3 separate regions of the Homo sapiens genome follow, and all the other regions are reported to be linked to region 2. The links are microRNA targets in miRTarBase. Many come from high-throughput screens and were not tested one by one. Region 2 holds a microRNA gene; each other region holds the end of a gene's coding sequence. Distances are between the middles of the regions.

Region 1 (10,551 bases), 31 Mb from region 2:
GTTTAGTACTAGAAGTCATGGCCACAGAGCCACTTTAAACCAGCACCTGCCCAGTGCTGCTGGGGGCACTCACCAGCCCAGGCATCCTCATCCACCCTCAGAGGGAGAGGCTGTGATTGGAGGAGGGTGTCTGACTAGGCTTCGAACTTGGGCCATCAGGGCCGGGCATGGTGGCGCACACCTGTGGTCCCAACTATTTGGGAGGCTAAAGTGGGAGAGTGGCTTGAGCCCAGGAGTTAAGGCTGCAGTCAGCCAAGATCGTGCCACTGCACTGCAGACTGGACAGCAGAGCAAAACCGTGTCTCAGAAAAAAGAAAAATGGCTGGGCGTGGTGGCTCATGCCTGTAATCTCAGCACTTTGGGAGGCCGAGGCAGGCGGATCACCTTAGGTCAGGAGTTCAAGACCAGCCTGGCCAACATGGTGAAACCTAGACTCTACTAAAAATACAAAAATTATCTGGGTGTGGTGGTGGGCACCTGTAATCCCTCTACTTGGGAGACTGAGGCAGGAGAATCACTTGAACCCAGGAGGCAGAGGTTGCAGTGGGCTGAAATCATGCCATTGCACTCCAGCCTGGGCGACAAGAGTGACACTCCATCTCAAAAAAAGAAAAATAAAATCCGGGCGTAGTGGCACATGCCTGTAATCCCAGCTGCTCAGGAGGCTGAGGCAGAATTACTTGAACCTGGGAGGCGGAGGTTGCAGTTGAGATCGTTCCACTGCACTCCAGCCTGGGCGACAGGGCGAGACTCCGTCTCAAAAAAAAAAAAAAAGAAAAAGAAAAGAAAAACTTGTTATCGAATGTGAAGCCAAATGGGGGTGTGCGGCTGCAAGGCGGGAGGTGCATGAGGCGTGGGCATTTGAGGGGCTGGGAGGCCTTTCTCTTCTGAGATCCATTATGGACGGCAGAGGGCAGAGGTTTGGATGTCCAGATGTCCCTGGAGCTAGGAGAGGCAGGGAGATGCACTGGCTTCTCTACGGGTCTTTCAAACCTTCTCAAAGCAAAGCTCTGTGCTTTAGGGTCAGGCCTGGCCTTGGCCTCCCTGTGATGTGGCGGGGCTTCCTCCCTCAGGTGGTGGACCGGGGGCTGCAGAAATCGCTTGTGTTTGAGGATGACCTGCGTTTTGAGATCTTCTTCAAGAGACGTCTGATGAACCTCATGCGGGATGTGGAGCGGGAGGGCCTGGACTGGGACCTCATGTGAGTGGGGGTCTGAGGATGGGGTGAAGCTGGGGCCTGGGGCAAGGCCAGGACTTAGAGGTGGGGGTGGGGGCAGGGTGGAGCTGGGACCTGGGGATGGGTCATGGCTTAGAGGCGGGGCTTGAAGGTGGGGTGGAACTGGAGCCTAGGTACATGGCCAGGGCTTAGAGGTGGGGCTGGGAGGCGGAGTGGAGCTGAATCCTACGGGCGTGGCCACAGCGCTGCAGCTGAGCCTAGAGCCTGTATGTCTGGGTGTGGTCAGGGTGGCAGGCGTGGCCAACCCTTGGAAGCGTAGCAGGAGGGCTCACGTGGTTCCTGGGCCTGAAGGCACTGTCAGGGCTGTAGCCTATAGGGAAGGGCGTTGGAAGGATCACCCAGAACTCAAGGGACCTGGCCGGAAGCCTGCAGGCTTGGTCAAGGCTTAGAGACTTGACTGAGGCCTGTGGAGGTGGATGTGGCTAAAATTTGACCGGGCAGCCTGTGGGCGTGGCTGAAGAGCATGGGGGTGTGGTCAGAGCTGGAGGTGTGGCCGAAGAGTGTGGGGGCGTGGCCAGGGCGCCTGGTCTTAGACAAGCCCCTGGATGGGAGTGCCACCAACATGTTTCCAGCACTGGAGCCGTCCTTCTCTTCTGTAAGTGGGCTGGTTTGTCCTCTCCCTTCCTCCATCTCTTTTTTCCCTTCCATGTGCAGTGCCCTAATCTGCATTCTGGGAACACTGCCCCATGTGAATAGTAACTGCACCCCTCCATTCCTGACTGCCCCCCCATCAGGGCACCTCGCCCACCTCCACCCCCACTGTCCTCTGAACTCAGAGCAGCTTCAGCCTCAGAGAACGTCTGCGTGATCCTGCTCTCCCCAGCTCCAGATCCTCCATGGCTCCCTCACGCCCTTTGGAAAAACTCACTCTTCTCCCCCATGACCGCCAGACCCCTGGGCTCCTGCATTCACTCCATCCAGTCACAGAGCTCTGCAAACATGCTGAGCCTGCTCCCATCCCAGGACCTGACGGGGTAACTAGATCCCTGGCTTTCTGGGCAAGCTCCCTCCGGAGGGCGGGAGGAGAGTGACAGGCCCGATCTTGCACCCCAGCTATGTGGGCCGGAAGCGGATGCAGGTGGAGCACCCCGAGAAGGCTGTGCCTCGCGTGAGGAACCTGGTGGAGGCCGACTATTCCTACTGGACCCTGGCCTACGTGATCTCCCTGCAAGGCGCCCGCAAACTGCTGGCTGCTGAGCCGCTCTCCAAGATGCTGCCTGTGGACGAGTTCCTGCCCGTCATGTTCGACAAACACCCAGTGTGAGAGGGGCAGGCGGCTGCTGGGCTGGGGTTTCACGGTGGGTCTGTCCTGGGAGAATGGGGATGTGAGACTCACGGCCTCCGAGAAGATGTCTCTTCTTTTGCCTACTTCTCCCTCCGTTTGCCCCCTCGCAGATCTGTCTCCATTTGTATCCCCTGCACACTTACGTTTTAATCTGTCCCCGCTGACTTCTTCACCCCCAATTTTTCCTCCAGCTGTCCCGTCCCCTGAAGCCATTGCTGCCCCTCACTCCCCTCCTCCTCCCCCCAGGTCCGAGTACAAGGCCCACTTCTCCCTCCGCAACCTGCATGCCTTCTCTGTGGAGCCGCTGCTCATCTACCCCACACACTACACAGGAGACGATGGCTATGTGAGTGACACCGAGACCTCAGTCGTATGGAACAATGAGCACGTCAAGACCGACTGGGACCGCGCCAAGTCCCAGAAGATGCGGGAGCAGCAGGCACTGAGCCGTGAGGCCAAGAACTCGGACGTGCTCCAGTCCCCACTGGACAGTGCTGCCCGGGATGAACTCTGAGGGGTAGCAGCCAGAAAGCCAAAGCAGCCATCGGTGGCCCAGGCTCCACGTGCTTACTGAGGACATCAGGTCCACCTCTGGACCCCTTGGCAGGCCACAGAGGGCTCTCGTGTGGGGTGGTGTCCAGCCAGCTCTTGCTAAGCAATCACGTGCACACAGGCAGCATTAATGGAGTGCCTACTGCATGCCAGCAACAGGGCTTGGCCCTGGGGAATTGGGAGGAACCAAGCCCTCTTCATCTGTTCATGTGCCCAGCATTTATTAAGCACCTGCTGTATGCAAGGTTCCCATGTTACGGCAGTGAATGAGGCATAATTGTTCCCTCCATCAGCGATTGATTCAGTCATCAAGCAGTTACTGATCAGATTAAGAATCAGGCACTAGTGATACACATTCATTTTTAAAATTCATTCAAGGATTTATTGAGTGCCTACTGTGTGTTGGGTGCCATTCCAGGCTCTGGGATTTTTTTTTTTTTTTTTTTAAGAGTAGAGTCTGTCTCTGTCACCCAGGCTGGAGTGCAGTGGTGTGACGGCTCACTGCAGCCTGCGCCTCCCAGCGTCCAGCAATTCTTGTTTCTCGGCCTCCCAAGTAGCTGGGACTATAGGTGCGTGCCATCACATCTGGCTAGTTTTTGTATTTTTAGTAGAGACGGGGTTTCACCATGTTGGCCAGGCTGGTCTCGAACTCCTGACCTCAAGTGATCTGCCCGCCTTGGCCACCCAAAGTGCTAGGGTTACAGGCATGAGCCACTGTGCCCAGCCCAGGCTCTGGGAATATTGAGATAAATAAGATGCTTCTATCCATTTATTCAAGCACATATTGGTCACCTACTGTGTGCCTGGCACTCATGTCACAAAGATAAGTTCCTGATTCGGTACACTTACTGAGCACCTGCTGTGTGCAGGGAGCTGAGCTATGGGATGGGAATGGGAGTAAACAAGGTACTTTTTACTTTTTTCTTTTTTTCCTCACTGCTAGACGGTGTGGGAACTTCTCACTCATTGGCTTCTTTCCCACACACCTGAAGAGCACTGACTGTGTGCCGGGCACTAGTGATACAAAAGAGTGTGACAGTTGTTCAGTCTGCATTTTCGATCATGGGCTACATGCCGAGTGCTGGGGCACAGAGATGAACAAGATCGGTTCCTTCACTTCTTCATGCCACAAGTGTTTATTGAGCACCTGTGTGCCAGGCCTCACAGACTCCCAGTTGGGTTGAAGAATGGTTGACTGAGTTTGATTCTTCCTGTACCCTCGGTCGTCTGAGCTGTGTGCAGACAACATCCCCCCACCACCCAAGAGGGAGGGTAGCTCTTCCGCCACCAGGGGCAAGCACAGGTCCTGGTGGCCCCACGCCACATGTTAGCCCCCCTGGAGGGGGCGCCAGTTGGAGACGGGGGCTGGGTGTCCCTGGCCCACTCCCGGTCCCCTGTGCTTTACCTCCTTGCCCTTGTGTCTCAGGTGTGGTCCCTGCCTGCTTGATGAAGTTGCTCTGTTCAAGCCTTTGGTGGGATCATGTGTTTGGGGGCTTTTAGGGGACCCAGCTGCACTGGGGCACTGCCCGTGGCCTGGGTAGGACATTTCCCAGCAAGGGCTGGAGGAGTTGCCGTGCCTTCAGCCTGAATCGAATGTCAGAACCAGCCAGCGGTGCTTCACCCTCTTGGGGATAACTTGCTTAGTTTTTTAATAAATGTTCCTGGTTGGTTTTCACAGCAGTTTGTGGGATTTTGCTCGGCACCAAAACACTGCCCACGTTCCCCACCCCTGGATGGCCGACAAGATTTGGGAGGAAACCAGGGCAGGTGCAGTAGGGAAGCTGCCCAGTGGGGCCTGGCATGGTGGCTCATGCCTGTAATCCCGGTGCTTTGGGAGGCTAAGGTGGGCGGATCACTTGAGGTCAGGAATTCAAGACCAGCCTGGCCAACATGGTGAAACCCCCTCTCTATTAAAAGTACAAAAATTAGCCTAGTGTAGTGGGGCGGGGTGGCGGGGGGGGGGTACCTGTAATCCTCGCTACTTGGGAGGCTGAGGCAGGAGAATCGCTTGAACCTGGGAGGTGGAGGTTGCAGTGACCCAAGATTGAGCCACTGCCCTCCAGCCTGGGCGGCAGAGCAAGACACAATCAAACCAAAAAAAAAAAAAAAAAGCTGGCCAGTGGAGCTACTGTGGGGTGAGGGTGTGGTAAGAGCCCTGTGTCCCCTCATGCCATAAAACTTCCCCCAAACAGGCGGGGGACCGACAGCTCTGTCTTGAGTCAACTTCAGGATCCTTCCACATGACTTCGAATAAAGAGGGGCTGTCGTGCTTTGAGTCCCCCTAAAACAGACCTCAACATGAGGATTAGGGCTGGGCATGGTGGTTCACGCCTGTAATCCCAGCACTTTGGGAGGCCAAGGTGGGTGGATCACCTGAGGTCAGGAGTTCGAGACCAGCCTGATCAATAAGATGAAATCCCGTCTCTACTAAAAATGCAAAAAGCAGCCAGGCATGGTGGTGTGTGACAGTAGTCCCAGCTACTTGGGAGGCTGAGGCAGGAGAATCGCTTGAACGCAGGAGGTGGAGGTTGCAGTGAGCTGAAATCTTGCCACTGCACTCCAGCCTGGGCAACAGAATGAGACTCCATCTCAAAAAAAAAAAAGGATTAGGCTGGGTGAGGTGGCTCACTCCTATAATCCCAATGCTTTGGGAGGTTGAGGAGGTGAGAGGATTGCTTGAGGTCAGGAGCTCAAGACCAGCTTGGGCAACAGAGTGAGACCCTCGTCTCTACAAAAAAAATTGAGAAATTAGTTGGGCATGGTAGGGCACACCTGTAATCTGGCTACTCAGGAGGCTGAAGCAGGAGTATCTCTTGAGTCTAGGAGGTTGAGGCTGCAGTGAACCATGATCACACCACTGCACTCCAGCCTGGGCAACAGAGCAAGACCCTGTTTCTATAAAACAAAACCAGAAAACTTCCCTGAAATAGCCCAGGGACAGGTGGCCAACTTCATTCTATCTTGGATCAACCACAGGATCGTCGCAGATGACTTCAAATGAGGAGGGGCTGTCATGGTTTGGGTCCCCTGAAACAGACTCCAAGATGAGGATTGAAGGGCACTTACGTTATCAGTGACCCCAGGAACTTGCTGTGGAGCAGTAGGGAAGTGAGACAAGAAGGGAAAGAGTGGTCCCACCCCAGGGAGAGGGGGCTGGACATTACAACATGCCCAGTTGCATTTGGATTTTCTGGGTCAAATGCTTACAAATCCTCTGGATTATTACACCTTTAGGGTGTGCAAGAATATACCCGAGACTTTTATAAACTAACACAGGGGCCAGGCGCGGTGGCTCACACCTGTAATCCCAGCACTTTGGGAGGCCGAGGCTGGTGGATCATGAGGTCAGGAGTTCGAGACCAGCCTGGCCAATATGGTGAAACCCCGTCTCTACTAAAAATACAGAAAAATTAGCTGGGCATGGTGGTGAGCGCCTGTAGTCCCAGCTACTTGGAGGCTGAGGCAGAAGAATCACTTGAACCTGGGAGGCGGAGGTTGTAGTGAGCCGAGATCACGCCACTGCACTCCAGCCTGGGCGACAGAGCAACACTCTTGTCTCAAAAAACAAAAAACAAACAACAACAAAAAACCCTAACACTGATGGTGTTCAATCAGTGTGGAAAAAATCAGAACTTACAGCTAAGCAAATTGACAAAGCAAAAATTAAATCACACCTTTTCAGACACAACTAACATTTTCAAAAACTTTCCAGCCTTCCTTATTTGCATGGTGTAAATATATATGCATTTTTTAAAAAAGGAGGACCATGTTACCTAAGCTACTGCAACTTGCCGTTTTATTTTTCGTGGAATGCACTTTTATTTTCTAAGCATGGGATCAAACTGTACCTATTTTTTAAAAAACAACTTTTATTTTTAAATTTAACAACTATTGTGGACCTCCTTTCCAAAATAGGGTTAACATCTACGAGCTCTTTTTGGATTGTTATGGAAAATATTCCCTGCTGTTTCCTGCAGTGGATAGCATTATACAATACATCTTTCCTACTGGATTTTTTGTTTTTTTGTGTTTTTTTGTTTGTTTTGTTTTGCTTTTTGAGACGGAGTCACACTCTGTCACCCAGGCTGGAGAGCAGTGATACGATCTTGACTCACTGCAACCTCCGCCTCCTGGGTTCAAGCAATTCTCCTGCCTCAGCCTCCTGAGTAATAGATTACAGGCGCCCGCACCACACCTGGAGAATTTTTGTATTTTTAGTAGAGATGGGGTTTCACCATGTTGGCCAGGCTGGTCTTGAACTCCTGACTACAAGTGATCCACCCGCCTTGGCTCCCAAAGTGCTGGGATTGCAGGCGTGAGCCACTGCACCTGGCTTCCTACTGGATTTTAAAATTTCAGTTGGGTAAATTGAGACAGGTGGGATTCCTGGATTAACCTGGATGTGCACTTCAGGTTTCAGTAGAGGCTATCATATTCCTTTTTCTTATTGAATCCTAACTATTCATCATCTATTGGCCAGAGTGAATTATCCATGTTTATTAAACAGTCCCTTCTGTGAAACATTTTTTTTTCTTTGAGGCAGAGTCTCACTCTGTCGCCCAGGCTGGAGTGTAGTGGCATGATCTTGGCTCACTGCAACCTCCGCCCCCACCCTGGGTTCAAACAATTTTCCTGCCTCAGCCTCCCTAGTAGCTGGGATTACAGACGCCTGCCACAATGCCCGGCTAGTTTTTGTACTTTTAGTAGAAACAGGGTTTCACCATGTTGGCCAGGCTGGTCTCAAACTTCTGACCTCAGGTGGTCCTCCCGCTTCGGCCTCCCAAAGTGCTGGGATTACAGGCATGAGCCACCGCACCCAGCCCCTTCTGTGAAAGATTTTTTTCTCATGCTTTGCAGGGAAGTTTCTAAATCTTATTTAACCCAGTGAGGCTCAACCAGGAGTAATTTTGTTCTTCAGGGGACATTTGGCAATGTCCCCTAAACATCCTACAATGCTAACACCATCCTACATTGTACATCCTATGCAGGAGGATGCAGCTAAATATCCTACAATGGCCAGGACGCCCCACCATACAGAACGTTCCAGTCCAGAATGTTCATAGTGCTGAGACTAAGAATTCCTGTACCCGGCCAGGTATGGTGGCTCGTGCTTGTAATCCCAGCACTTTGGGAGGTTGAGGCAGGCAGATCACTTGACCCTAGGAGTTTGAGACCAGCCTGGGCAAAACCCTGTCTCTACAAAAAAATAGAAACACTTAGCCATGTGTGTTGTCACGTGTCTGTGCCCCCCAGCCTCGGGAGGCTGAAATGGGAGGATTGCTGGAGCCTACGAGGTTGAGGCTACAGTGAGCAGTGATTGTACCACTGCACTCCAGCCTGGGCTACAGAGCGAGACCCTGTCTCGAAAAAATAAAAATAAAAAAAGAATCCCTGTACCCAATTCCTTTCAGCCTCTTGGGGACATGAGTCTTTAGAAGGATCTTCTCTGTGGTACGAAGTGAAGCTTCCTTTACTATGAAATTTATCTGAATAAAGCATAGATTCGCAGGCTCTGCTCACAGACTAAAGGATTAGAACTTGGAGGTAGCTGGGTGCAGTGGCTCACACCTGTAATCCCAGCAATTTGGGAGGCCGAGGCGGGAGGATCACCTGAGGTCAGGAGTTCGAGACCAGCCTGACCAACATGGCAAAACCCTGTCTCTACTAAAAATACAAAAAAATTAGCTGGGCGTGGTGACGCATGCCTGTAATCCCAGCTACTTAGGAGGCCGAGACAGGAGAATCGCTTGAACTGGGGAGGCAGAGGTTGCAGTGAGCCGAGATCGTGCCATTGCACTCCAGCCTGGGCGCAAAACTCCATCTAAAAAAAAAAAAAAAAGAACTTGGAGGTGATGCCTGGGAATTAAATTTTATTTTGAAGGCCCCCAAACAGTTATGTAACTCTGGTGTTGCTTTTGACCTCTGCACCTTCAGGAGAACCTCATCCTTCCTTCTGGAACTTTCTAAATACACACACACACAATGTATACTTTTCTTGTCTTTGTAAAAATTTTATTATTACTATTTTCTGAGACAGGGTCTCGTTCTGTTGCCTAGGCTGGAGTCCAATGGTGCAATCATGGTTCACTGCAGCCTCAAGCTCCCAGGCTTAAGTGATCTTCCCACCTCAGCCTCCTAAGTAGCCAGGACTACAGACATGAGCCACTATGCCCAGCTAATTTTTTATTTTTTGTAGAGATGACGGTCTTGCTATGTTGCCCATCCTGGTCTCGAGCTCCTGGGCTGCAGCAATCCTCCCCGCTCAGCTTATCAAAATGCTGGAATTACAGGCATGAGCCACTGCACCTGGCACCTTTATTTTATGAATGCTATTTTTAATTGTAAAGTGATTCTTATTCATGGGGACACCCTTCAGTTGGTCTATTGGCTATTAGTTCCCTATTGCTACTCTAACACATTTCCACAAACTTAGTCGCTTAAAACAACATCAATGTATTCTTGTATGGTTTTGAAGGCCAGAATTCTGAAATCAGTTTCACTGGGCTAATGTCAAATCAAGCTGAGGCTGGGTGCGGTTGCTCACGCCTATAATCCCAGCACTTTGGAAGGCTGAGGTGGGTGGGTCACTTGAGGTCAGCAGTTCGAGACCAGCCTGGCCAATATGGGGAAATCCCATCTCTACTAAAAATACAAAAATTAGCTGGGCATGGTGGCACACACCTGTAGTCCCAGCTACTTGGGAGGCTGAGGCAGGAGAATTGAGGAGAACCCGGGAGGCGGAGGTGGCAGTGAGCTGAGATAGGGGCCATTGCACTCCAGCCTGGGCAACAGAGCAAGACTCTGTCTCAAAAAAAAAAAAAAAAAAAAATCAAGCTGGGTGCAGTGGCACACACCTGTAATCCCAGCTACCCTGTAATCCCAGCTACTCGGGAGGCCGAGGCAGGAGAATCGTTTGAGCCCAGGAGTTCAAGATCAGCCTGGGTAACATAGTGAGACCCCCATCTCTAAAAATAAATAAATAAGTAAAAATAAATTCAAGTCAGCAGGGTTGGTTTCTTCTGGAGGATCTAGGGGGGAATCCTTCTCTTTGTCTTTTCTGGCTTCTGAAACCCACTGGCATCTTTTTTGTTTTTTTTTAATTTTTTTGAGACTAAGTCCAGCTCTGTCACCCTGGCTGGAGTGCAGTGGCACGATCTCAGCTCACAGCAACCTCTGCTTCCCAGGTTCAAGTGATTGTCATGCCTCAGCCTCCCGAGTAGCTGGGATTACAGGCGCCCACCACCATGCCCAGCTAATTTTTGTATTTTTGATAGGGAGGGGGTTTCACCATTTTGGCCAGGCCGGTCTTGAACGCCTGACTTCAGGTGATTTTCCTGCCTTGGCCTCCCAAAGTGCTGGGATTACAGGCATGAACCACCATGCCCCATCCCCACTGGCATCTTTTTTTTTATGCTTTAAACAATTTTTTTTTTTAGAATTCAAAAGCAAACTCTGGATCCTGAGCTTAACTGTAATG
Region 2 (10,551 bases):
GCTGAGGCTAGAAGAGCCACGGAGACAGGGGCTGGGCTGGACCTAAAACCGAGGCCTCCTGACCACCCCCAGGGCGCTGGCCCCAACACCAGTCACGGGTACCTCGCCTCCCTTTCCCACCGTGGCTCCTGCTCCCGGATCGGAGGCCACCGTCTGGGTGCCCGCTCAGCCCTCTCTCCTGTAGGCCCAGCCACCATGCCACTCCGCTGGACCTCAGTGTCAGCATTTGTCAAACAGGGTAGACCCCAGCCCTGCGTCTCAGGCGCACGGCCTGGTCCTGCCCGCACCGGATGCGGAGGATCTGCTTCGTGTCTTTCTCGCTGTAGGGGGTGGTGGAGACGATAAGCAGCCGGTCCAGCAGGTCTATGGGGATGCCGTGAGGGCTCTGGTAGCTGGTGCCCCGGATTCTGAGGAAGAGGCAGAAAGAGGGGGCTGTCAGGGGCATGTTCCCTCTTCATTCCCTTTGCTGGGAACACTCTCACCTCCCATCGCCACCCACTCACTGGGCCCAACACCACTTAACCTTTAGCTCGCGTCTCCTGTCACATGATGACATCACCCCTGATGACGCAGCCTTCCACAGCTGCGTCAGTCCCCCAAGGGCACCTTTCCGCGGAGCTGGGCTGCTTTAAGCTAGATCTCTGCCTCCAGGATTACTGGATCAAGGTCCCACTCCCGTGCTCGACACAAAGCTTCACAAAGGAGGGGACTGCACCTGTCTTGTTCCCTGCTGCAGCGGGGCCAGCCCAGGGCTGGTGCCAGGGGATACAGTCAGTTCCCCTTATTCACAGTAGTGAGGTTCTAGAAAGTCATCGTGAACACTCCAATTAGCTGATCCTGAGCCACTGCTCCTACTGGAATACAGGGTTAGGCTCTCTCGAGCCTCGGCTTACAGTATTTTCATCAATCCATATATATATAATCTGGGTCTATGCGTATTTTCATTTGTGTGTTTCTGGTCTTTTTGGTTTGTTTTTTGAGACGGAGTCTCGCTCTGTTGCGAGGCTGGAGTGCAGTGGCGCGATCTCGGCTCACTGCAACCTCCGCCTCCCGGGTTCAACCGATCCTCCTGCCTCAGCCTCCCAAGTAGCTGGGTCTACAGGCGCACGCCATCACGCCCAGCTAGTTTTTTCTATTTTTAATACAGACAGGGTTTCACCATGTTGGCCGGGACGGTCTCATTCTCTTGACCTCGTGATCCACCCACCTCGGCCTCCCAAAGTGCTGGGATTACAGGTGTGAGCTACCGCGCCTGGCCTCATGTATGTGTGTTTCTATTTCCATGTGTTTGTTATGTAACATCACTGTTTATTCTCTAACATGGAGCTCGTGTCAACAGCATTCTAACTTGGGCTCAGCGAAGCGTCTGTAACATGGCATTTTCTCCGTCAGGCTTCACAGCCTCCTTGCACTTAGGATACTAGACAGCACTTCAACACTGTGCACAGGGGACACTTTAAATGGCAATATCACCAACAAATGGCCCCAAAAAGTTTAAAAAAAAAAGGCACAAAAAAAGTGACAACACTTTGGGAGGCTGAGGCGGGTGGATTGCTTGAGCCCAGGAGTTTGAGACCAGCCTGGGCAACATGGCAAAACACCATCTCTACAAAAAAAAAAAAAAAATTAGGCCGGACGCGGTGACTCACCCCTGTAATCTCAACACTTTGGGAGGCTGAGGTGGGCAGATCACGAGGTCAGGAGTTCGAGACCAGCCTGGCCAATATGGTGAAACCCTGTCTCTACTAAAAATACCAAAATTAGCTGGGCATGGTGGCGGGTGCCCATAATCCCAGCTACTCAGGAGGCTGAGGCAGGAAAACTGCTTGAACCCAGAAGGCAGAGGTTGCAGTGAGCCGAGATCGTGCCACTGCACTCCAGCCTGGTGACAGAGCTAGACTCCGTCTCAAAACAAAAACAGAAATTAGCTAGGCATAGTGGTGCATGCCCGTGGTCCCAGCTGATGAGGAGGCTGAGGCCAGAGGACTGATTGAGTCCCAGGGGTGGTGTGTGTGTGTGTGTGTGTGTGTGTGTGTGTGTGTGTGTGGTGGGCACTGAGGCTGCAGTGTGCCATGATCGTGCCTCTGCACTCCAGCCTGGGCGACAGAGCAAGACCCTGTCTCAAAGAACAAAAGTGACAAACGTAGCACTAAATAGAATACAACAAGGACACTTATTTACAGCATGAGCGCTAAGGGAGCAGGCAGTGTTGCCTCGTTCACACTCAGCTGGGAAAGTGGGTGTCAGGTGACTTGAATTTGTTGCCGAAAGCAGGGCAGATATTTATTTGGGGATTACAAATAAATCTTAGCAAGCGAGATTCTCAGATACAGAGTCTACGAACAATCAGGGCTGCCCGTAGCTGCTGCCTCCCACAGGAGGTGCCCCTGGGCAGTCCCCAGGCCCTGACCTGCAGTTTCTGTGAAAACACCATCAGCCCTGGGGGTCTCTTCCAGTGTCCAGCCATCCAGAGACCAAATTACGGCCCTGCTACCTTCTAGACTTGTGACCTGGGCAAGTCACTGGGCCTCACTGTCCTGCCCTATAAAATGGGGCTGAGGTGATATCTACCTTCTGAGCTTCTTCTGCGGATCCAAGGAGTTAAAAGAGCCAAACACAGAGCCAGGCCCAGCGGCCCAGCATCCTCTGTAGGGTGCCCGCTTCTTCCCTTTTGTGATGCCCATCCCAACCGCCCAGTTTCAGCTGGGCCCAAGGCTGCAGGGCTGGAGCTGACAGTACCCAGCCTTCTTTGCCACCAGGTACAGCACTGAGCCCAAGCAGTGCCGGGCAATGGAATGGGGGTGCAAGGTTGGGGTGCAGCCTGTGGATCACAGCCTATGGGGGCTGCCTGCCCTCCACATCCCCCTGCTTCCTGCGGGCCAAAATGTGGCGAGGTGGAGAAGACAGCCAGCGGGCATGGTGGCAGGTGCCCGTAATCCCAGCTACACAGGGTGCTGGCAACACCTGGGAGACGAGGTTCCCAGGCTTCAGCACAGCACAGTACCCTCTGTGTCACAGGAATCTGTCCCCGGCATCCTCAGGCCAAACACAACATTAAGAGTTCCCCGTGCACAGGGTGCTGGCAACACCTGGGAGATGAGGTTCCCAGGCTTCAGCAGAGCACGGTACCCTCTGTGTCATGGGAATCTGTCCCTGGCATCCTTAGGCCAAACACAACGCTAAGAGTTCTGTTAATGGAGTTGCTGGGTCGAAGTGACTGAACAATCGTAGTTTATGTTATGTCTAACAGATGTCACTGTGCTTCCCTCAAGACTAGAAAACATCCCACAGCACTCCTGTGAGTTTCCTGCAGCACCCTGGGGTGCCTCGGCACGCAGTTTGAAGACTGCAGCCTTGGGGGCTAAAGGAGCAGCAAGACAGAAAGGCAGCAAGAACACAGTCTCTGGGCTTCCTCGGGAAGCAGAGCTGCCTCCCACCCGCCTTTTGTAAGCAAAGAGCGCACACTGCAGTCACGCGTCCCTCCCTGACCCGGTGTCAACACAGGCTCCCATTGACCCTCTGACCACACCCACTGCCCAGAGCATCCTGTTTTCCCCAGAGGCCCCTGTAGCCGGCTCACCGCGTGATGCCACGGTTGGTGGCCATGATCAGGACAGGCGCCATGTCACTCTCCAGGGCCCGGTTGAGGAAGGAGAAGCTCTCGATGTCCAGCATGTGGACCTCGTCGATGAACAGCACCTTGGATTGGGGTGTGTGTGAGAGTCACCACCCGCGTCCCCACTTCCCCGGCCCACCTCCACCCCACCACCCGCCCCGGCCATGTCCTGGGTCCTCACTCCAGGGATGATCTCCGCCTTGCCCTCCTCGCGCCACTCAGCCACCTTGGCATTGATCTGCTCACGGACTTCTGACTTGATCTCCCCTGTGTCACCTATGGGAGGCACAGGTTGCATCAGGGAAGCCAGAGAGGAGGCGGGTTCCAGGGCCAGAGTGTGGCTAAGACAGAGAAGGATGATGCCAGGGATGGAGGAAGGGGAGCAAAGCAAGGAGGGATGAGGAGCCTGAAACATCCCCAAAGAGGAGGAACAGAGGCAGAGAACACAGGAGGGGAGAGGGCAGGGCCACACCCATCACAGCACCAGCAGGGGTGGGGACGGAGCGGACTTGCAGGTGGAGAACAGAGGCAGCCACGGGCCGGAGTTACAGGAAACAGCGTGGAGCAGGTGGGCCACACTCGGAGCTCAGGAACAGAGGGAGCCCGAGGGAGGCTGCTAGGCCTGGGGCAGGGCAGGGCAGGGCAGGGCAGGAGGGGCCTCACCTGAGAAGAGCGCCAGGAAGCCCTGGGTGCGAGAGTTGATGACGTCGATCTCGTGCAGGGACACGGTGTGCACCACCTCCTTGCGTTTCTGGAGCTCCCCATCTGGGCACTGCACGAACTTGGTCTATGGGGCGGGGGTGGGGGAAGAACGGCGGAGACAGGGCAGGGAAGGGCATGAAGGGGGCCCCTAAAGCCCTCTGTCTGGGGGAGACTGGAGCTCCAGGAAATGGAGCTGGGAGGCTAAATGGGGTCATCTGGAAACCCCAGGCCCAGGAGGTAGTCAGGACTAGGGACATTCCAGAGCGCTGAGGGTCACGGGGGCTCCCGGAGGACCTTAGAAGCCACAGGCCACATGTGGCCATGCGAAGCTATAGTGCCAGGCTGAGGGGCCCTGCTGTCCTAGGGTTACAGGGAAGACCCAGGAGTACCAGGACAAACAGTCAGGGTAACAGGAAGATCCAGACCCCATGGGTCAAGGGGGTGATGGAGGAGATGAAAACACCCCAGTGCTGGGGGCGAGGGGATCCCGGGAGTCCCGGCCGCACCTGGGAGCCCATAGCGTCGTAGTCGCGGGCGCGTGTGAAGGAGCGGCCCAGCTTGGAGATCTTGCCCGTCGCCTTGTCGATGGTGATCACGTCCCTACAGGGGGATGGGGGGTAGGGTAAGGAAAGGAATGGGCCCAAGCTCGCCCATCCCCCTGGCTGCCTGGCATGGCCCCTGACTGCTCACCCGGCCTGGACCTTGTCCTTGGTCAGGGACTCAATCATCTTGGTGCCCAGGTCGTAGATGGTCTCCATCTCTGTGGTCTTGAGGGTCAGTTTGCCCACCTTGGAGCCCTGAGAGTGGGGACAAGCCAGGGATGGGGCTCAGAGAGGGCCCTGATGTTGCCCCAGTGCCCCCAGTGTTGATAAGCTTCTGGCTCTGCTCTGGCCTCTGCTTCCACAGCTTCAAAATGGGCACAACACAAGGAAGCTCTCCAGGGAAGACATACGGTGCGCTCACCAGCCTGACGCGGTGATGGCTCCGCGGCTGAACATGTATGTCCCAACGGACCATACTGGACACTTGCAATGTGTACAGCTTTCTGTATGTCAATTAAAACTCAATAAAGTTCTTTTTTTTTTTGAGACGGAGTCTTGCTCTGTCGCCCACGCTGGAGTGTAGTAGCATGATCTCGGCTCACTGCAAGCTCTGCCTCCCGGGTTCACGCCATTCTCCTGCCTCAGCCTCCCGAGTAGCTGGGACTACAGGCGCCCGCCACCACGCATGGCTAATTTTTGTATTTTTAGTAGAGATGGGGTTTCACTGTGATAGCCAGGATGGTCTCGATCTCCTGACCTTGTGATCTGCCCACCTCGGCCTCCCAAAGTGCTGGGATTACAGGAGTGAGCTACTGCGCCTGGTGAATAAAGCTCTTTTTTTTTTTTTTTTTTTTTTTTTTTTTTTTTTTTGAGATAGAGTCTTGCTCTGTCGCCCAGGCTGGAGTGCAGTGGTGTGATCTCAGCTCACTCCAACCTCCATCTCCCGGGTTCAAGTAGTTCTCCTGCCTCAGCCTCCCAAGTAGCTGGGATTACAGATGTGTGCCACCATACCCAGCTAATTGTTTTGTGTTTTTATTATTTATTTATTTTTGAGATGGAGTTTCGCTCTTGTTGCCCAGGCTGGAGTGCAATGGTGTGATCTCGGCTTACTGCAACTTCTGCCTCCCAGATTCAAGCGATTCTCCTGCCTTAGCCTCCCAAGTAGCTGGGATTACAAGCACCCACCACCACGCCCAGCTAATTTTTTGTATTTTTAGTAGAGACAGGGTTTCACCATGTTGGTCAGGCTGGTCTTGAACTCCTGACTTCAGGTGATCCACCCGCCTCGGCCTCCCAAAGTGCTGGGATTATAGGCATGAACCACCGCGCCCAGCCATTTTGTATTTTTAGTATAGACAGGGTTTCACCATGTTAGTCAGGCTCGTTTCGAACTCCTGATCTCAAGTGATCGCCCACCTCAGCCTCCCAAAGTGCTGGGATTACAGGTGTGAGCCACTGCGCCTGGCCAAAACTCAATAAAGCTCTTAATAAAAATAGTAAACAGGCAGGGTGCAGTGGCTCACACCTGTAATCCCAGCACTTTGGGAGGCCGAGGCGGGCAGATCACAAGGTCAGGAGATCGAGACCACAGTGAAACCCCGTCTCTACTAAAAATACAAAAAATTAGCCGGGCGTGGTGGCAGGTGCCTGTAGTCCCAGCTACTCGGGAGGCTGAGGCAGGAGAATGGCATGAACCCGGGAGGCAGAGCTTGCCGTGAGCTGAGATTGTGCCACTGCACTCCAGCCTGGGCAACAGAGCAAGACTCCATCTCAAAAAAAAAATTATAATAAAATAAAATAAAAATAAAAAATAAAAATAGTAAACAAACAACATGCCTAAAAAATAAAGTCTATCAAAAACAACATAGGCCCGAGGTCTCGCAAAATTGCCAAATGTCACACTTTGACATTCCTATTTTATACCCAAATAAAAAGTGTTTTTGTTGATCACAAAATCAGAAAACACAGCTATGCAAAAAGGAGAAAACAGAAATTGTAAAAAAAAAAAAAAAAAAAAAAAAAGAGGCCAGGTATGGTGGCTCACGGCTGTAATCCCAGCACTTTGGGAGGCCAAGGTGGGCAGATCACGAGGTCAGGAGTTCAAGACCAGCCTGGCCAACATGGTGAAACCCCGTCTCTACTGAAAGTACAAAAATTAGCCGGGCGTGGTGGCATGCACACACCTGTAATCTCAGCTACTCGGAAGGCTGAGGCAGAAGAATCACTTGAACCTGGGAGGCAGAGGTTGCAGTGAGCCGAGATTGCACCACTGCATTCCAGTCTGGGGGACAGAGGGAGACTCTGTCTCGAAAACAAAAAAAAAAGAGAGAGCAAATCACCTGTATCATGTAAGATGGACAGGACATGCCTTTCGGCCACGGAACGAGTTTTGAAGTCTGTTGGGTTTTGAGGTCTGTTGGGAACTCACTAACAGATCTCTCTCATTATTTTACCGCCTCAGTTTCTATTGCCCATAATGTCCTTCATAAGGGGATAAGCCATTGTCAAGTTAACTGACCTCCTACTGTAGGCATGTACATGGCTCTAGTCTGCAGCTAGAACATTCCATGGGATTCTGACCTCAGTGCAGACCTGATATCTACTCTCTCCAACCCTGGCGCTGGAGGTGGCCTCAGCAGGGTACAGACTCACACAGACTCACCGTCCCTGTTGCTGGTCGATCAATCTGGATCTCCACCACCTCCCCTTCGATGATCTCCGTCTCCTCCCTAGCCAGAGAGCAGATCTGAGGAGACAGCCTGACACCTGGACCCTCGGGAATCACAACCTTCCATGAGCTCTGGGACAAAGGACGAGCCGCCCGGGGTGCGGGGTTGCTCCCAGGCTCTGGGGTCTGGCACCCGCCTCGGGTCCCCCGCTTACTTGATGCGAACGCCGATGGACCGCCGGAAGGCCTGCGTCAGCGCCTCGGTCTTGCTCATCTCCAGGGAGAAGATTTCACTGCCGGCGATGGCTGTGAATGGCGTGTCAGGGCCCAGGGCCTGCGCCATGCCTGGGAAGGAGGCAGTCTGTGTAGGTGAAGCCGCTCTGGCACCAGGTCCCCGACACCTGCTCTGTGGCAAACTAGCTTTTCTCCCACCCCAGGAAAGAGGGTTCAGTGCCATCCTACATGTAAGGACTTGGCTCCGAGCTGAGCAGAGCGCTGGGGAGGGGGAACTGGAGAGCGGGGTTCAGCCATGAGGCAGACAGTGAGTGAGAAGCCAGGCAGGGCAGGTTGCTCCGGCAGGCCTGGCTTAGAATCCCACATTGCCCAGAGGGTACACCCTAGAACCTCGCCACACCTCAGTCTCCCAGCCTCTACGAGCTGTTTAGCCTCAGAGCTGGACGAAGGGGACCAGGGACGAAGGCCAAGGAGCCCACACGATAGCTACAAGTGATGAAGGCAGACTGCCTCGGCTCCCATCCCAGATCCACCACTTAAGTGCAGGTGGCGCCGTGGGATCTTGAGCGATCTGAACTGCTCCCTGAGCCTCAGTCTCCCCCTCTGTCTAATGGGGATGATAACAGAACACGTGCCAGCATGGGATGACACCCTGCTTAGGAGTGACTATGGGCAGGCAGGCAGGCAGGCACTGGTGCTCAGCAGTAACACGGTTGCGCAGCCTGAAACTGGCACAGGGCAGGACGCTCTACCGCCGGTGGCCTGGGGTGGCTGGCAGGAAGCAGGTCTGTCTCCAGCAATAGCTCTGAACGCCAGACCTTTCCTTCCAGTTCCCTGGCCACAAGGTTTGGTCCAATGTGGGGCACGCCCTTTCAGACAGGCTGACACCACACCCTCCTGCCCAGTGTCAAGTGGGACCTGTTCTTAGTCCTCTTTGCGGATACACAATGGCCCTCATCACAGAACTCAGCAAGTATCTGCTGAGGGCTGAGTGGACGAGCACGGCCCATGCCATCTGGGGACACCAGGGGTCCTCTCTGCCTCTTTCACTAGACTAAGAAGCGTCCCCGCCAGGGCGAGGCTAGCCTCACCCCAGTGCTGCCCAGCACAGGGTTTGGCCTGCAGGAGGCCTGCGGGAGACACAAGAAGAGGAAAGGCGAGGCCGGGCACAGTCACAACATGCCTAAAAAATAAAGTCTACAGGCTCCCGCCTGTAATCCCAGCACTTTGGGAGGCCGAGGCAGGGGGGTGGATCACCTGAGGTCAGGAGTTCGGGACCAGCCTGGTCAACATGGTGAAATCCCATTTCTACTAAAAATACAAAAATCAGTTGGGTGTGGTGGCACACATCTGTAATCCCAGCTACTTGGGAGGTTGAGGCAGGAGGATCACTTGAACCCAGGAGGCAGAGGTTGCAGTGAGCGAAGATCACACCACTGCACTCCAGCCTGAGCGACAGAGTGAAACTGTCTCAAAAAAAAAAAAAAATGAAGAAGAGTAGGAAAGCAGAAAGGATGGAGGGAAGGAAGTTACTGTGTGTGCCACATTCTGGGCCTGGACATGCTGTCCCCAGTGTCCGCCCAGGAGCCTCCTGGCCATCCTACTAGGCTTAGCTCAGGTATCCGCTTCTCTGGAAGCCTCTAGCAACAAATGCCACCACATGCCCCGTTTTCCTACCAAGGTCAGGAGCCTCCTCTGTCACATGCTACCTGCATTGTAACACATGTCGCCTTGGAAGGGATCGTGTCCATGACCACCTCCTCCAGACCAGGAGCTCTTTGAAGTCAGGCCTTGGTCTAACTCATCTATGGGTCCCCAGTGTCCAGTCCGAGCACCCCAACAGGCACTGCTTTATCTTCACTGAAGACCTGGCTGTTACTCTGATTCTCCCTGCCTGGCCCCAGCCTCAGCACAGAGGTGGGAGTGAGTGGGAAGAGCAGTGGGTTAGGAAAAGCTTCAATGGGGCAGAGATGCTGAAGTAGGGTTTTGAAGGATAAATAGGAGTTCAACAAGGAAGAAGAGGAACAGCTGGGAGTGAAAAGATCATAAACCACTAGCGGACTGCAACAAAGACTGCTGGGTGACTCCTCAATACCCACCTTCCCCTTCTTCCTTAGTTCTAGAACCCTCATTTTCTTTCCTGTTTTTTTTTTTTTAATTTTTTATTTTTACAACAACCTTTTGCCCAACAGAAGAATCCTCATTTTCTTAAGGCAAAAATGGTCCAAATTATGAAATTTTAAAAAACATTTAATGTGCCAGCCTCCCCTGAAGCAGAGTGTGATCATATGATTACATTCTAGTCAATGAGATAATGAGATATAAGCAGAAGCATGGAGGATTTCCAATGACTGTTTAAAGGAAGCCAACTCGAGGGGGTTCATCCTCATGGCAACTCCTTTCTTCCTGCTGCCTGGGTTATGAGTGGGAAGGCTGGAGCTCTGGCAGCCCTCTTGGAACATGGCGTCCTCTTGACTGGAACCAAGTGCAGAGGATGGTGAGGCAGGAAGATGGAAGACTTCCTGGAACTGCTTAATAAGCCCCAAATGGCCTACCTCTAGATTCTTCCATGGGCAAGAATGAATCCTGAGTGTTTAAGCCACTGCCATTTTGGGTCATCTGTTAAAGGCGGCTCATCCTGACCCTGACTTACACAGGAGGAGTTATTTAGCAGGAAACAGGAGAGTTCCTGCCCTGGGAGGTTTCTTACCCATGGCGATGGCCGTCTTCCCCGTGCCCGGCTGGCCAGCAATAAGGACTGCCCGACCGGCAATCTTCCCTTCCCGGAT
Region 3 (10,551 bases), not on the chromosome of region 2:
GTTTTTGAATCTTCAGTCATTTCCCCTAATAATAGAAATGATATATGGCAAATATAAAACATTTTTAAATGAGCAAAGATACTACATTTATAAGAAAATTAAAAGCACTTATAATCCTATTATCCAAAGTATCCACTATTAAGAGTTTGGTACATGATTATCTAGGCGTTTCTTCTGTGAATGTATATAAATAAACATATATAAATGTTTAATACATGAAATCATATCACATATACAGTTTTCTATCTGCTTTTTAAAAATTTTCCATGGAAACCTTTCCATTGTTATATCCTCATCCTCATTTTAAAGGCTGTGTATTATTTCATGGTGTGGAGGAAATTTCAGGTATTTGTTACTAACCTGCTATTTTTGGGTATTCGGGTGATCTAGAGCGGAGATATTTAAATATTTTTAAAGTGCGTTTGGGATATGAATTCTAACACTCAGGCATCAGGCACCAGTGTACAATCAAGAGCCCTTCTCAGAAGGTGACAGAAGGTCCCCATGTCCCAGAATTAGCCCCCAAAAAACCCCAAAATAAAAAAGGGACCTTGATCCCCAGCTGAACTTTTCATGGGGTGACCTTGAGCAAGCTGTGTGTGCAGCCTTTGCTGGGTCTCCCCACCACAAAAGAGATCTCCAGAATATTCGAGGAAGGGCGGGGCTCCCAGGAGCAAAGCACACACTCTTTCTTGCGCAGCCCCCTGTGGACAGAGCTGTAACCTGGGCCCAGGGCATGCTCCCAGCCTGCAAATGGAGATGCTGCCTCATTTTTCTCTCTAAATCTAAACTTTATTATCAGCCCCTCTCCTACCCCAGGGAGTCCTGGCCAGCCCATCTCCCCACTCCCCTAGAGCTGTTGGGGTGTGAGGTCTCAGGCAAGGCCGAATATTCTGGGGTGAGAAAGGAGGGGAGGGTGGGATCTGGTCACCAAAGTGTCACCCACACACGTGGCTTCCAAGATGCCCATCACCTCGTTCCCTCCACGCCACCCCTGGGCCCCAGGGCTCTTTGCCAAGGCTGCCTGTGGCCACCACATCCCTGAGCCCTGCTGCTCTGGGGTCCACAAACTTCTCTTCTAAGGAAAAGATTCCATGGGGATGGAGGGATTCTTCAACCTTCCTGCTTCCTCCTGCCCAAACCCTCAGGACACAGGCTTTGTGGGAGCCCTCAGGTAGGAAGGAAGGTGTCTTGCAGGTGGCTTCAATTTTCCCCCTACCACAGACCCCCTCCAGACCAGAAGGACACACTTGCCTCTACTTGAATAGAGAAGGGAAGGAAAATCAGAGAGAAAAAAAATGAATATCCGAGCCCTTCTCCTGCCATAGTCTCTCCTCGGCAAGTCCAGGTCCTCAAAAGGACACTTTCTTTCCCTTTCCGGTCTCTACCCCACCCCCACACACCCAGCAAAAAATAGAGTGGGCTCCATGTTTCTCCCCCAGTGTGGATTTCTTGGATTCCCACAGGTGAAGCGCCTGCTCCTGCCTCTCTGGGGGTCATGTCTCCAGGCCCCCTGGGAGTGGGAGCCGAGTCTGTGCTGTGAACACCCCACTATCCCCCTAAGCGGGTCTCCTCTGGGAGAGGCCGCTCCACAGCCCCAGCTCCATGCTGCCCGGAGCTCCTGGGGCAATGTGGACCAGAGAATGATAGTGGGACTTCCTGGCTGAGCCCTTCAAGGTCTCCTTTGTCTCTCCTCCTTGTCCCCTCCCTCACAGGCCTGCAGCCCCACTGATCATCTTCCAGCCCTTGGCCCTGCCATGGCCACTCCGGCCTAGACAGCTGCTTCTCAGCAGGAGGTCTGTCCTTGACCAGGCTGAAAGGTGACCTCGGGGTCCTGTCCATCACCACCTTGTATGTCCATCAGCATTTATCAATAATCCCTAGTCACCTTGTTTGCATTCCTCGATCAGTTGACCTGCAAACTAGCTGTCTTGCTAGTTAACCTCACGAGGACTGGGGGTGGCTTGCCGGTCCCACTGTGTTCCCAGCTTCCAGAGTGACACTGCACCTAGTAGGCACTCAAATATCTGTGAAAGGGTGGATGAGTGAATGGGTTGGAGGAAACCCCTCCCTATTCATGTCCATTCTGAAGATAAGAAAACTCGCTGCTTCTACCTGAAGGGAAAACCTTCCTCCTCCAAAAACCCTCCTGTTCTATATGAGGCTTTAGAAACCAAAGGCAAGGACGTTTCTTTCATCTGCCTTTCATCCTGCAAAAAGCCCTCCACTCAAGGGAAGAAAGGGCACTGGAGTTTATTGAGTGGGAGACAGGCGGCAGGTGGGAGACGGGGAGGGAGGAGAGAAAGGGAAATTCAGGAGGAAGGAGTCCAGCGTGGATTGCTCCAAAGCTCACCCACCACGCCCTGACTGCAGGTGTGATTCGGGGCCCCCGTGGCTCTGCTGGGTCCAGGTGCAAGCAGGCACAGAGGTGCTGGCGTCAGCTCGATTCGCAGGCCCTGGACTCCTGTCTAAACAGGACAGGCCCGGGCAACCGCAGGGCAGGGGCGTCTGCCAATGATGGGGGAGGACTCTGCTGCTTCTTAAGCTCCAGCGTCTCAAGCCAGGGCGAGACAGCCCGCCGGCCGCCCGGATCTCCACCTGCCACCCCAGAGCTGGGACAGCAGCCGGGCTGCGGCACTGGGAGGGAGACCCCACAGTGGCCTCTTCTGCCACCCACGCCCCCACCCCTGGCATGGCCGACCAGCTGACTGAGGAGCAGGTCACAGAATTCAAGGAGGCCTTCTCCCTGTTTGACAAGGATGGGGACGGCTGCATCACCACCCGCGAGCTGGGCACGGTCATGCGGTCCCTGGGCCAGAACCCCACGGAGGCCGAGCTGCGGGACATGATGAGTGAGATCGACCGGGACGGCAACGGCACCGTGGACTTCCCCGAGTTCCTGGGCATGATGGCCAGGAAGATGAAGGACACGGACAACGAGGAGGAGATCCGCGAGGCCTTCCGCGTGTTCGACAAGGACGGCAACGGCTTCGTCAGCGCCGCCGAGCTGCGACACGTCATGACCCGGCTGGGGGAGAAGCTGAGTGACGAGGAGGTGGACGAGATGATCCGGGCCGCGGACACGGACGGAGACGGACAGGTGAACTACGAGGAGTTTGTCCGTGTGCTGGTGTCCAAGTGAGGCCGGCGCCCACCATGCTCCTGGGCGCCCACGCGGCCCACAGGGCAAGAACCCGGGGCCTCCCGCCTCCTCCCCCATCCCCCTGCCTCCCCTGGGCACTGTGGCTTCCTCCTGCGCCTGGTTGATTCAGCCCACCTCTCTGCATCCCGCTTCCCGCGTCTCTTCTCTGCACTCCTGCCGACCTTCCCACCTGCTCGTCTGAATGACACGGAACGCTCCCACTGCAGGCAAACCGTGACGCCCTCCCCACTCGGGAGAAGCAGAGCTGACCTTAGGACCGAGCACCAGGGCAGGTTGCGCTGACTCTGCGGCCCTCCAGGACGGACACCGGGTGACCCCTTAGGGCACCCAGGCAAGATCCCTAAGAGGCACCCAATGCCCAGGCCAGGGGGGCTGCAGCCCTCAGCCCCCGCCAGGATTCCCGCAGGCTCCTGGACTGGAAGCTCCCTCCGCGGTCGGATTCTGGAGGGTGGGAGGCATCTTGGCCTGCAGTAAGCGGTGCTGACGGGGACTCTGGCCACAGAGGTCAGGCCTCCTGAAAACAGCACTGCCTTCCGCGCTGCCCCAGCTTGCCCCATTCCTTGTCCGCCAACCCACCGTGATTCATCTTCTGAAGCTGGGAGTGAAACTGGGTCAGCTGTAACCTGTTCCTATTCATCTGGAAGGAGGGAGGCTTGGATGAGCAGGGGATGAGAGCTGCAGGGAAATAAATGAGATATTCGTCCTTATTTCATTTCCTTTTTTTTTTTGGTTTCCATGGAAATGATCCTTGTTAAATTCAGGGTTGAAACGAGGCAGGAATCTCCATTTTTGTGCTTTTTGAAAATGCAATGAATTCCTATACGGGGGAGCGGGAAAGGTGCCTCAGAGAGAGACAAGTCTGGATGAGGGAAATATTGAATATTCTCAATCAAATGGATACGCTGGCAGCAAAGAGTGGTTAAAAGTCCATCAGGACTTGAAAGACCTGAGTCCATTACGTTGAGAAGGGACCTGCTGATTGCTTTGATTCCCCCTGGCAAGTGCTCCCTGGTTGTGAAGTGCCAGGCACTAGAGATGGTGAGGGGTTGGGGGGCAGTTGGGCACACACAGTGTAAGAGCAATTCAGAGCCGTTAGTCCTGCACTAGCCCTGCAAGCTGCTGGCAACACCTAGAGAAGGTCGAAGGGGCCCTGCCAGAGATCCCTTCAATTCTAAAGGGAGGTATGTTTTGCGGGATGGGCACTAGACGGAGCTCATCAGAAAAGGCCATGGTGGATGTATCCTCTCTCCCTGACACCCCACCCCCGCCCACCAACACCCAGTGTTTCCTCCTTTGTAAAACAAAGAGCTGGGCCCCAGCCCCGGCCTTGCCATCATCACTGCACCACTGGGACCTCCAGGATGACAGGACCCTCATGCCACCTGCTTGGGCTCAGGGCACCATCAAGCACTTGGCCTGCATAGACAATTGGCACCTCCCTATGGGGCAGCCACTATTATTACCTTCCTCATCTTACAAACGAGGAAGTGGAGACACAGAGGGCTTTAGAAAGCAGCCCTGGGTCCCACCAGTGGGTAAGAGGCAGACCTGGGATTTCAGTCAGGTCTGTGCCCTGACCACTCAGCTACAGGTCTGACACCAACCTGTGCCTCCATCATGGTAACTACGGTAGCGCCTCTCTCCAGCACTTGTGAGGAGCCAGAACAACATTCTTAACACACCTGGCATGTAGTAGGTGCTTAATAATGGCAGCTACTGTTACCATCACCTTCAAGATCCCTTCCTGCTCTAATACTGCAAGACTGTCCAGGGTAGTCACCCCTCTCCATAGCTCGAGAACAAGACAAGAGCAGAAAGGGGCAGAAGCAGGTGCTCTGGGGCTGGATTCCTGAGGGGATGCTGGATGGTGGGGTGTCAGGTGAGCACTGGCCCAGGGCCGGTGTAACTGCAGGTACTCCTGTCAGGGGAACAGAAGCAGAGGGCAAGCTAAGGCTCAGCTTGCTGAGCAAATCCCCACCCCTCCCTGCCACTCTCAGGAGTCGGGGTTGATTGGACACGTCCTGGGGAAGATTTGGGAACAAGCCTCATAAACACATGGACAGAGTGTCTAGAGTTCATTGGGCAGCAGCACCCCAGGGGGTGGGGGGCTGTGAGCAGGAGGGGCAGGCAGAAGCCCCCACATGGCTGCTGACCGCCAGGCAAAAGGAATAGTACATCAGGCCTGAGTACCTTTTGTAGAATGTCTCCTAAATTCTGCAGGAAGGAGAGAAACCAAGGTCTCCCTGCACAGGGCATCTTTGTAGTCACTGTCATACACGTGGCTGAGGTTTGACATCTAAGCCCCTTCTTCCCAGGTGCAGGCTTGAGGCTCTTACAAGGGTTGGGACCTACGCACTGCCAATGCCTGGGCCAGGAGGGCACGCCAGTGTCTTTATTTGTCTTCCTCCCAGCCTCCCAGCGATTCCGCCAGGGCAGGTCTTTTTGCAACCCCACACACCAGTCATTCTGGAGCCACCTGGGCCTGGATTTTGCAGGTGCTGGGAGCCTTTCATCAAGAGCTCTTTGTGCTCAGGCAGGCACTGGCTGGGGTGGTGGAAAGGTCCTACCTGCTCTCAGCTTAGAACTGGCAGCCCCAGATCCTCCCTGAGGGGGAGTCCTCAGAAGCAGAGTAGTAAGTGGAGGTGTCTTTTTTTTTTTTTTTTTTTTTGAGACAGAGTCTGGCTCTGATCCCCAGGCTGGAGTGCAGTGGCGTGATCCCAGCTCACTGCAACCTCTGCCTCCCTGGTTCACGCCATTCTCCTGCCTCAGCCTCCCGAGTAGCTGGGACTACAGGCACCCACCACCACGCCCGGCTAACTTTTTATGTTTTTAGTAGAGATGGGGTTTCACCGTGTTAGCCAGGATGGTCTCGATCTCCTGACCTCGTGATCCGCCCGCCTCAACCTCCCAAATTGCTGGGATTACAGGCATGAGCGACCGCGCCTGGCCGGAGGTGTCTTCTTTATACAGACAGAAGCCAGAGGCAGCAAGGTCAAAGTGCGTCCTGTGGCAAAGGTGAATGACCCCTCCCCTCCCCCTTGGTGTTTAAACACATTTTTTTTTTTTTTGAGATAGGATCTTGCTCTGTCACCTAGGCTGGAGTGCAGTGGTGCAATCATAGCTCACTGCAGCTTCAACCTCCCAAGCTCAAGTGATGGTCCCACCTCAACCTCCCGAGCTCAAGTGATCATCCCACCTCGACCTCTAGAGTAGCTGGGACTGACGCGTGCCACCATGACCCACTAATTAAAAAAAAAAAATTGGAGGGGTGAGGTCTCTATGTTGCCCAGTCTTACCCAAACTCCTAGCCTGAAGTGATCCTCCTGCCTTGGCCTCCCAAAGTGCTGGGATTACAGGCACAAGCCACCGTGCCCGGCCCTGAATATGATTGTTCAGTAACATCTTCTGTCTGCCCTTCTCCTTGAAGCTGGGTCACTGCCCTCACCACAGTGAGCACCGTCTGCTGCCACATGGCTCTGCCCCCTCCCAACCTTCTGTGTTGGGGTAAGGAAGACCAGGCCAGAGGGGGACGCAGCTCTGACAGTGCTCTCTGGCACGGCTCCTTCTGCCTCACGGGGCGTGATGCCCAGGGAACCCCCTGCCCTCACCAGCAGACCCCAAACCCACAGTATGAATGCATCTCTCACCGGGCTAGCATTGCTGACCTCCACGGCATGGCATCAGCTACTCTGACTCAGTTCACCCACGGCAGTGAGTGTGTCCTCTCACACAACAGCCTCGGGATCCAGGTCTACCTAGGTCACACCTGGGCCTGTCTTTAGCTTCCTCCCCATCTCCCCTTATCTTATTTTCCCTTCCTTTTTCCCACCCTGGTCAGCACTTCCAAAGAGCCTGCCCCAAACCCAGATGTCAAGGTAAACTTTTTTGTTGGTAAAATGTGGTCACTCCAGCTGCCAGGGGTGGGTGCTCGCCTGTTGGACATAGGCAAGGGGAGGCCTGGGGGCTGGAGCAGGAGGAAGGAGCCACCCAAATGGGCAAACAGGGTTCTCCAGAGGGACCCAGCCCTGCGGGTGGAGCTTTCTTCCACCCTGTGTTTTTCTGTGGCAGAGACTTAGAGGCAGTTGCCCAACTGGCATATCCCTTTCTTTTCAGTCATTGAATAACCTAATTTAAACAACCTGCCCTCAGCCCCCAAAAAGGTGCAATCTGACTGCAGCTCAAAACAACATTCCAGCCATCCTAGGGGAAAGGAATTTATAAATATTACCTTGGCTTCCATGTGCTTTACTGAGCTCCCTCATAAATCAGGACTTGGGGCTCCTGCACTCCCAGACTATATAAAGCTCGCCTCTGACTCCCGTGTTTCCAATTTTAAATCGAATGCAGCCCAGCCCTGCCGGCTCCTGTTTATCCTCAAAGATTCCAAAGGCCTGTTCAAAGGCTCCCAGAACCAGCCAGCTAAAAATGACCCACGGCTTCCGCTAGAGAAATGTGGTATCAAAACTCGTGTATGGGGTGAGACTGCTCCATGAAGAATGGTAGCAATGGGGAATATGAGTTGTGTTTCTCCACCAAAAAACAAAGCTACATAAAGTAAAACAAGACCAAAAACCACCTCTGAGAAAGGTCTGGCCCCAAACCATGTGTCAATCTCCTCACCATCTTGCTTTTCTGGTAGTCATTTCCATAGCAACAGGTTCTCAGGGGTCTGGACTGGGCAAGAAAGGGAAGTGCCTGGGAAAGGCCTCCTCTGAGCCCTTTCTAACAGGGACAAGGCTGGGTGCTGAGTACTGGGTGGGACAAGCACCTTCCTCAAAGTGCAGGGAAGTGAGAAGCTTTAAATAGACCTAGAAACAATGGCAGGGTTTCCATAATTGGAGGAGAAAGTACCTATCGGAATAATAACAGAAGGAACCACATGCAGTCCCCTAAACACCTTCTTCAGGTCTTTCACGTCTTGTAGTGTGTGCGAACTACCCGGGAGGGGAAAGGAGCCAGGCTCTTAGGGAACATAAGGAGGGGAACATCTGAAGGGTGAATAGCAGGTGGGCCTAGGCCTCAGAGAGCCAACTGGGTGGCCCTGCACACCTTGGGGAGCTGAACATCCAGGGAGTGACTTCCTGAAGACTGACCACATGTGGCCCTGCTGGCCCATGGTGAAATTCATCTCCTGTCATCACTAGCCAAACCAGTCTCACCTATAGCCTACTGCACACCTGAAGACTCTGGTCTGAAGGCCCCCCATGATAGAAGCTCAGCCTTCACTGGGGCACACTGTCGGGAGGCACCTGTCTTGCATTTCATTAGCTCCTTTAATCCTCCAAACAAGTCAGTGCAGTAGCTTGTTTTAGCCTGTTTCAGAGAAGAAAAGACGAAGACTTTGAGACTTTGAATAACTTATCCAAGGCCATACATCTAGTGAATCAGAGTTTGACCCTGGGTTTGACCGACCCCAAAGCTCACACTATTCCCACTGTGCCAGAGAGGAGTTCTTAGAGCAAGGAGCCTGAAACCGAGAGGCGCTGAGCTCACAGAGGCGGTGAGTGCTGGAGAGATCTCGGTAGGAAAGGCCTGGAAGTGGGAAACAGCTGTCAGGCAGAATTTGTCTGGGCAGAGAGGACCTAGAGAAAAGAAAAGGAATTGATCGATGCCAGGAATATCCAGGAGCCACAGGACCCCTTGTGTCTGGGTGTGGGCATCTGCAGAGGGAGTGCTGGTGGACTGCCCACTTGCCACGTGAGACGTGATGTCTCACTGCCCCTCTGGCCCAGCACTGGACCCCATGCAGGTGCTGGGGCCGCTGCAGTCCCAGAAAACAAGAGGGAATCCTGCAGTGGGCACATCTTTGCGACAGGAGGTCCCAATCCGCTCCCTGCTCCACACACGCGCATCTGTCTGCAGCCAAAGTGCTACACGAACCTTCACCATTCATTATTGCAGAGCAGCTGGGAGGTGTTGGGCTTCTCAGCTTCTCATCCAAACTCACATCTCGGGGTGCAGGTGATGGGCAGTCAGAAAAAGCCACATGACCCTACTATGGTTGAATTGTGCCCCCTGCCTCCAAAAACTCATATGTTGAAGTCCTACCAACCAGGACCTCAGAACATGACCTTATTTGGAGATAAGTCTTTACAGGGATAATCAAGCTACAACGAGGTCATGAGAGTGGGCCTTCAGCCAATATAACCTTGTCAGGGTGGGACACGTGGACACACATGCCCAGAGGGAAGACAGTGTGACGACACAGGGAGAAGACAGCTGTCCACAGGCCCAGGAGAGAGGCCTGGAACAGCCCCTCCCCAGAGTCCTCTGGAAGGAACCCACCCTGCCAACACCTTGACCTTGGACTTCCAGCCTCCAGGACTGTGGATGAGACCTTCCTGTGGTTGAAGCATCTGATCTGTGGTGCTTTGTTATGGCAGCCCCCAAGCATCCACTGTAAGGGGGTCAGGTGTATTCACGGCCTCTCTCCCTGCTCCAAGGTCCACAAGGGCTGCTGGGGACTTGGTCCAGAGCCGTCCTTTGTCTGAGTCCAATTCTGACTTCATAGTGACTCCCCGGGGGATGCAGGGAGTCAGATCCACTTGATTCTGGAGAGGATCCAAGGGTAAAGGAAGGAGAAGGAGGGAAATAATCCCTTGAATATGGGAAACTGTCTTTTGACAAATTCTGGTGTGTCTTTCCAGACCGTAGATGCGTGGGTGGGATTCAAAGTCTGGCCCTGCCGAGGAGCAGCGGAGCATCCCAGGAAAGCCCCTGCTCTCCCAACCCCAGTTCTGCTGAGGAAGTGAAGGATCCTTGGAGGCGGCACAGCCATGCACAGGGTGTAACCGCCTGGGATGCAACCTGGGCATGAAGACAGCACAGACGTGGTACCGCAGGGCCCGAGGCTGGGTGAGAGTCAGGCTGAGATCAACGTTTGGGCTTGTAGACGCCTAGGTTTGCACAGCATCATAGAGGTTATCTGGCCTAATTTCCCATGCAGGATGAGAGGCCTATGAGTGATGACATCGTAAGCAATGGCAGGTGTGCACGACCTTGAATGCGACCATGGTAGGGAGGTCAAGGCAAGTTGCCCAAAGGTTGGAAAATTGCTATCCCCGGAAAGCTTTTCCTTAAACAGGTCTGAAAGGTGCCTCCATGTAACTGCCCCCACTGGCCCCTTTATTCTCTCTATGTTTGTGAGAGTCTAGAGCAGCAGCCCCTCTCCATGTGTCCACGTATTTGTGCCTCCGGCAGCAGCAGGTGCCTTCATGCTCCACATGGCCTCCTCTCCTCTCCAGGCTCTGTCCAGAGGTTCTTACCTGACAGTGGGTAAGGTTCCTCCCTTATCCCCCAGTGGTGGCTCAGCTTGGGACACGTGTCAGCTTCTCAGAGTCCTCCTTGAAGATGGGACCAGTGCCTGTGGCCAGAGCTACTTCCCCCTG

Evidence for each region. Region 2 holds the annotated microRNA hsa-miR-6798-5p (CCAGGGGGAUGGGCGAGCUUGGG, at 4,958-4,980, opposite strand). A microRNA usually pairs through its seed, bases 2 to 8, with sites in the 3' UTR of a target mRNA and lowers its output. Matches are read on the target gene's strand: a 7mer-m8 pairs with bases 2 to 8, a 7mer-A1 pairs with bases 2 to 7 and ends in A, and an 8mer does both.
Region 1: the mRNA of COLGALT1 is a reported target of hsa-miR-6798-5p. Seed matches in the 3' UTR shown: 7mer-m8 at 4,407-4,413.
Region 3: the mRNA of CALML3 is a reported target of hsa-miR-6798-5p. Seed matches in the 3' UTR shown: 7mer-m8 at 3,221-3,227 and 7mer-m8 at 4,154-4,160.

The regions. Positions count from the first base shown.
Region 1 is chr19:17,578,409-17,588,959 of GRCh38, forward strand. COLGALT1 (collagen beta(1-O)galactosyltransferase 1) reads left to right here. Exons shown (of 12, transcript NM_024656.4): 10 at 1,074-1,201; 11 at 2,291-2,497; 12 at 2,769-4,749. The coding sequence ends at 3,036. Among named protein-coding and RNA genes, the nearest start is that of COLGALT1, 28 kb to the left of the region's middle. RefSeq lists enhancers at 1,488-1,697, 1,532-1,826.
Region 2 is chr19:49,004,340-49,014,890 of GRCh38, reverse strand. It overlaps MIR6798 (microRNA 6798), which reads right to left and starts at 4,985; the gene lies at 4,919-4,985. RUVBL2 (RuvB like AAA ATPase 2) reads right to left here. Exons shown (of 15, transcript NM_006666.3): 4 at 10,473-10,551; 5 at 7,744-7,873; 6 at 7,523-7,589; 7 at 5,009-5,115; 8 at 4,825-4,918; 9 at 4,280-4,403; 10 at 3,798-3,892; 11 at 3,581-3,699; 12 at 288-407. RefSeq lists a silencer at 2,953-3,127 and enhancers at 4,950-5,451, 10,064-10,551.
Region 3 is chr10:5,522,394-5,532,944 of GRCh38, forward strand. CALML3 (calmodulin like 3) reads left to right here and starts at 2,568. Exons shown (of 1, transcript NM_005185.4): 1 at 2,568-4,378. The coding sequence starts at 2,693. The coding sequence ends at 3,142. It overlaps CALML3-AS1 (CALML3 antisense RNA 1), which reads right to left and starts at 3,853. Exons shown (of 3, transcript NR_120497.1): 1 at 3,740-3,853. RefSeq lists enhancers at 2,873-3,572, 3,573-4,273.